Regions from separate parts of the Homo sapiens genome. Here region 2 is linked to region 1. Evidence: fine-mapped expression QTL. A gene starts in region 1. The other region holds a variant in brackets. All regions are shown on one strand. Distances are between the middles of the regions. Region 1 holds the start of CACNG6 (calcium voltage-gated channel auxiliary subunit gamma 6). Region 2 has its middle 31 kb from the start of CACNG6.

Evidence for each region.
Region 2: its variant is fine-mapped to the expression of CACNG6 in whole blood (TOPMed, PIP 0.96).

What each region holds. Positions count from the first base shown.
Region 1 is chr19:53,990,132-53,993,030 of GRCh38, forward strand. It overlaps CACNG6 (calcium voltage-gated channel auxiliary subunit gamma 6), which reads left to right and starts at 1,506. Exons shown (of 4, transcript NM_145814.2): 1 at 1,506-2,899. The coding sequence starts at 2,747. It overlaps CACNG8 (calcium voltage-gated channel auxiliary subunit gamma 8), which reads left to right. Exons shown (of 4, transcript NM_031895.6): 4 at 1-84.
Region 2 is chr19:54,021,332-54,024,230 of GRCh38, forward strand. No RefSeq gene overlaps it. Among named protein-coding and RNA genes, the nearest start is that of CACNG6, 31 kb to the left of the region's middle. RefSeq lists a silencer at 1,458-1,661. The variant T/C (reference allele first, on the strand shown) is at 1,621.

The DNA.
Region 1 (2,899 bases):
TCCTCTGTCCCTGCTCCTGGGGGAGCTGAAACTGCATGGAAGGTCCCCCAGGGGTGCCCCGTCTAATAAACTCGATGAAGAGGAGTGCTGCTTTCATTCTGTGCCCCTGACAGCCGGCCCTGCCCTGAGGCCTGCGCTTTCTCCAACATGGAAATCAGGCCTTCCATCCTTCAAGACCCAGGGTTCTGGCCCCAGTCTCCTCCCTGAGGCCCAGGACTCTGGGTCTGCCAACGCCTTGACCAGGAGTCCAGGCTCCCCGGCCCTCCTCCTCCCTCAGACCCAGGAGTCCAGGCCCAGCCCCTCCTCCCTCAGATCCAGGAGTCCAGGCCCCCTGCCCCCTCCTCCCTCAGACCCAGGAGTCCAGGCCCAGGCCTTCCTCCCTCAGACCCAGGAGCCCAGGCCCCCAGCCCCTCCTCCCTCAGACCCAGGAGCCCAGGCCCCCAGCCCCTCCTCCCTCAGACCCAGGAGCCCAGGCCCCCAGCCCCTCCTCCCTCAGACCCAGGAGTCCAGGCCCCCAGCCCCTCCTCCTTCAGACCCAGGAGTTCAGGCCCCAGTCCCTCCTCCCTCAGACCCAGAAGTCCAGGCCCCCAGCCCCTCCTCCCTCAGACTCAGGAGCCCAGGCCCCCAGCCCCTCCTCCCTCAGACCCAGGAGTCCAGGCCCCAGCCCCTCCTCCCTCAGACCCAGGAGTCCAGACCCCCAGCCCCTCCTCCCTCAGACCCAGGAGCCCAGGCCCCCAACCCCTCCTCCCTCAGACCCAGGAGTCCAGGCCCCCAGCCCCTCCTCCCTCAGACCCAGGAGTCCAGGCCCCCAGCCCCTCCTCCTTCAGACCCAGGAGTTCAGGCCCCAGTCCCTCCTCCCTCAGACCCAGAAGTCCAGGCCCCAGTCCCTCCTCCCTCAGACTCAGGAGCCCAGGCCCAGCCCCTCCTCCCTCAGACCCAGGAGTCCAGACCCCAGCCCCTCCTCCCTCAGACCCAGGAGTTCAGGCCCCCAGCCCCTCCTCCCTCAGACTCAGGAGCCCAGGACCTAGGAGACCAGGTTCCTCTCCTCTCAGATCCAAGATTCTGGGTACCCAGGCCTTCTTCCTCTACCACTCAGAAGTGGGGTACCGAGGCTTCTTCTCCCTTAGGGACCCAAGACTCCTGGCCTCAGGCCCTCCTCCCTGAGACCCGGGGCCCTGCCTCCCGCCCCTCCTCCCTGGTAACCCCAGTCAGACTTGCTGCCCCGCCCGTCTCCTGCTGCCCGGGAGACTGCGGAGCTGGGACTCTCGGCGCCGCTCTTGCCCCTTAGTGAAATGAAAGTCCCATCAGGCTCGGCCCCTTCCTCCCCGGGCGGCCTCCCTCCCCCCTTCCTCGTCCCCTTAAAACACCCGGGATCCCTATGGCAACAGGCGCCGGGCGACAGGTGCGGGTGTTATTTACGGGTCAAGCCCGAAATAGCCCCGAGGGTGGAGGGTGGAGGGTGGGGGGTGGGCGGGTGGGGACGAGGCCGGGCGCGGGCGGAGGCCAGGCCGGTGGCGGTGGCGGGCACAGCCGGACGCTTCGGAGGCAGCGCGGAGCTGGGGTCGGCGCGGGGCCGAGGCAGGAGAGCGAGAGGGGCCCCTGCTCGGGAGTCGGGGGTGGGAGCCCCGAGGGGGGGCCCTGGCCTGGGGCTGAGCCTGGCGCGAACCCGACCGGGAAGGCCCTGGGAGCCCGGGGGAGGGAGACGGACTGATCCCGAAGGGGCGCAGCGTCTCTTGCGGGTCGCGGTTGGCCTTTGAACCCTGGGGGGACTCAGTCCTGGTTTTCCGAGCCGCAGTGCGGACCACAGCCCCATAGTGTGAGCCCCAGGAGGGCCCCCGGTCCCATCTGCCCCAGCCCTCGGGGAGGCCCCGTAGCCTCCCGCCTCTGGACTCCACTCTGTCTTCCGGCCACCGGCCCCTTTTCCAGGCTCAGTAGAGACCTCGGATCTTTTCTGAATGGCAGGGGAGACCCCTATCCCCTTTTCCTGAATTCCAGCGAGGCCCAGTCCTCTTCTGAGCCCCAGCCAGGGCTCTGTTCTTCTCCTTCTGTGGATGCCGGGGTCCTACTGCCTCTCTTGAGACCCGGATTGAATTCCGACCTCCCCTTGGGAGCTTCCCGGGACCCCAGGTCTTCCTTTTCCGAATCCCAGAGGGTCCCCAAGTCCTCTGTTCTCAAACTCTGAGCCCAAGGGAACCCCGGCCACATCTCCTCCAAACACACACAGGACCTCAGGTCCCTTCCTGGGTACCCCAAACTCTTAGCCCTAGTGGGGTGCTCAGATCTCTCAGGAAAACCAGTTTCCCTTTTGTTAACCCCCCAGCGGGGACCCCAAAGCAGCCCCTTGGAGCTGCAGGGAGCTTCAGCGGGCACCAGTTCTCATTCCTCTGGAGCTCTTGGGGGGACTCCCTCCTGGGAAGCCGAATTCTATCTCTAAACCTCAGGGTGGGGGCCTTGTTTTTCCTCTGGGCCCCGTCTTCTTTGCCAAGTTCTTGAGGGCAACCTAGACCCTCCTCTGAACCCCAGAGGCTTCCCCAGCCCTGGGGATCATTTTTCTCTTCTGAACCCCAGAAGCAATCTCGACTTTCGCATTTGAGATTCCAGACAGGACTCGGCTCTCCCTCTTTCATACCCAGGGGAAACTGAGTCCCTCACCCCCTTCAAGACCCCAGGCCGCTCCTCGCTCCCGCCCCTCGAGGCCCTTCGCCGGCTCTGCCTCCTCCCCCTTCCCGACCCCACCGGCCATAAGATGATGTGGTCCAACTTCTTCCTGCAAGAGGAGAACCGGCGGCGGGGGGCCGCGGGCCGGCGGCGGGCGCACGGGCAGGGCAGGTCGGGGCTGACGCCCGAGCGCGAGGGGAAGGTGAAGCTGGCGCTGCTGCTGGCCGCCGTGGGCGCCACG
Region 2 (2,899 bases), 31 kb after region 1:
GGGGTTTCACCGTGTTAGCCAGGATGGTCTTGATTTCCTGACCTCGTGATCTGCCCCGCCTTGGCCTCCCAAAGTGCTGGGGTAACAGGCGTGAGCCACTGCACCCGGCCCCACATTCAAACTTCTTATCACAACTTGCAAAGTTCTGCATGATCCGGGCTTAGCACCTCCCTTCTCCTGCTGTGCTCTAGCCGGCTCACTTTGCCTCAGCCACGCTGGCCTGTGTCCATTCTTGGAACTAGTACTGGCCAGGCTTGCTCCTGCCCCAGGGCCTTTGCCTGCGCTGTGCCTTCTGCCTGAAGTGTCATTCTCTTTGCATTTCTCATGGCTGGATACTTACACTGTTTTTAATTCTCAGCTTCAACATATTTTCATCCAAGTCTTCCCTTACCCACTTTGCAAAGGAAAGACCCACCTCCCATACACTCATTGTGTTATAGTGCATCCCTCTTGATTTCTAGCATGTCTCTTGTTACAATCTACAGTTTGTTGTTTTTTTCTTTCAGATGGAGTCTTGCTCTGTCGCCCAGGCTGGAGTGCAGTGGTGTGACCTCAACTCACTGCAACCTCTGCCTCCCGGGTTCAAGTGATTCTCGTGCCTCAGCCTCCCAAGTAGCTGGGACTACACGCGTCCACCACCACGCCCAGCTAATTTTTGTATTTTTAGTGGAGATGGGGTTTCACCATGTTGGTCAGGCTGGTCTGGAAGTCCTGACCTCATGATCCGCCAGCCTCGGTCTCCCAAAGTGCTGGGATTGCAGGCATGAGCCGCCGCACCCAGCCAACAGTAACAGTCTTTTCAAAATGCCTGGTCCATAGTACGTGCTCGACAAATATTTGTGAAATCACTGGATACATAAGACAGTTCCAGGGAAGGGGAGTAGCTTGCTCAGAACAGGGAAGCTGCCCAGGAGTCTTTCCCCTGATTCTCAGACCACGATCCCGTGCTCAGCTCCTCGCGGATTCAAGGCTGATGAAGGCAAGGGCCACACTGTCACCCACTCTTTGAAAGCCCCAAACCAGAAGTCATTCCGGGGTGGCTGTTCAAGGTTCTTCACTGATCAGGTCTCTTGGTAACAAGTGTTGGCCTCCCACAGGTACATGTCAGCATCTCCTTCCTTTCAGAGGCTGAATGCTTGTCCATTTATGTAGATCCCACACTTTCTTTACACATTCATTCATTGATGGCACTTACATTGCTTCCATTTCTTGGTTTTTGTGAATAATGCTGTTAAGAACATCAACGTATAAATTATCTCTTCCGGCCGAGCGTGGTGGCTCACGCCTGTAATCCCAGTACTTCGGGAGGCCAAGGAGGGTGGATCACTTGGGCCCAGGAGTTCAAGACTAGCCTAGGCAACATGGTGAAACCCTGTCTCTACAAAAGTAAAATAAAATAAAATTAAAATTAAAAGTAGCTGGGCTTGGTGGTGCATGCCTGTAGTCCCAACTATTCAGGAGGCTGAAGTGAGAAGGTCGCTCGAGCCCAGGAGGTCGAGGCTGCAATAAGTAAGCCAAGATCACACTACTGTATTACTCACCAGGCAACAGAGAGAGAGACCCTGTCTCAAAAATAAATACACAGATAGGCTGGGGGCAGTGACTCATGCCTGTAATCCT[T/C]GGCTTGGGAAGCCGAGGAGGGTGGATCACCTGAGGTCAGGAGTTCAAGACCACCCGGGTCAACATGGCAAAACCCCATCTCTACTAAAAATACAAAAATTAGCTGGGCATGGTGTTAGGTGCCTGTAGTCCCAGCTACTCGGGAGACTGAGGCAGCAGAATCACTTAAACCCAGGAGGCAGAGGTTGCAGTGAGCTGAGATCGCACCACTGCATTCCAGCCTGGCTGACAGAGTGAGACTCCGTCTCAAAAAATACATACATACATACATACATATCTCTTCAAGATCCTGCTTGGAATTCTTTTGGGTATCTCCCCAGAAATGGAATTGCTGGATCCCATGGTAATTCTATTTTATGAGTTAGAACTTGATGGCCTGAATTTTTGTGGTGTCAGCTGCAGACTCACAGTGAGGGAAGCCCAGGAGGGGATGGGCTTTAAGAGGATGATGCTGCAACAGAGGGGCTTTAGTTAACACGGATGTGCTGTGTTCTTGAGCCTTCCTAAGAGAGTAGATTGTAAGTGTTCTTACCACACACACAAAAATGATAAATGTGAGGCAATGCACATGTAAATTAGCTCAATTTAGCCTTTTCACAACGTATACTATTTCAGCACATCATGTTGTACACCATAAGTACATACAATTTTTATTTGCCCTAAAAAATAAATCAGTAATGCTTAAAAAAATTAAATTTCATATTGTAGGGGGGGAAACAGTGCATGATGTTGCAATGTACTGCGTTTCATTTCCTGAAGCGTCAGCGAAAGACCAGCCCTGGGGTAGAAGACCGGAGCGGAGGGAGCGTGGCCTCCCCAGCTCCCCACTTCCTTCTCAAGCTGCAGGCTGAACTAGGGTCTCTGGAACTGGGCTAAGGCGCCCCCGTGTCTGCAGCCTCTCTGCGGGGCTTCATGGACTCCAGCAAAAGGCTTGAGGCTGGAAACGAGGGTATGAGCGTGCGGAGAGGTAGGGTGAGGTTGGGTTTCTGCAAGGAAATAATAATCACCGTGCTTAACTGATGTACTAGGCACCAGGCTGAAGGCCCCATCAGCTGGCGAGGCTGGGAGAGAAATTGACATCCCCTCTTGCTGCCCCGCCGTTGGCTGGAAACAGTCATGAGCCGCCACCTAGCGGCGAAAATGACAGCAACAACTTGGACCTAGAGCTGGGGCCACGGAACGAAAGGCGTCATCCCTTTAAATTAGGACAATTGCCCTCTCTCAGGGCAGCTTCTCTGTTCTGGTTACCTGCTGACTTACACCCAGTCACCCCAAACTT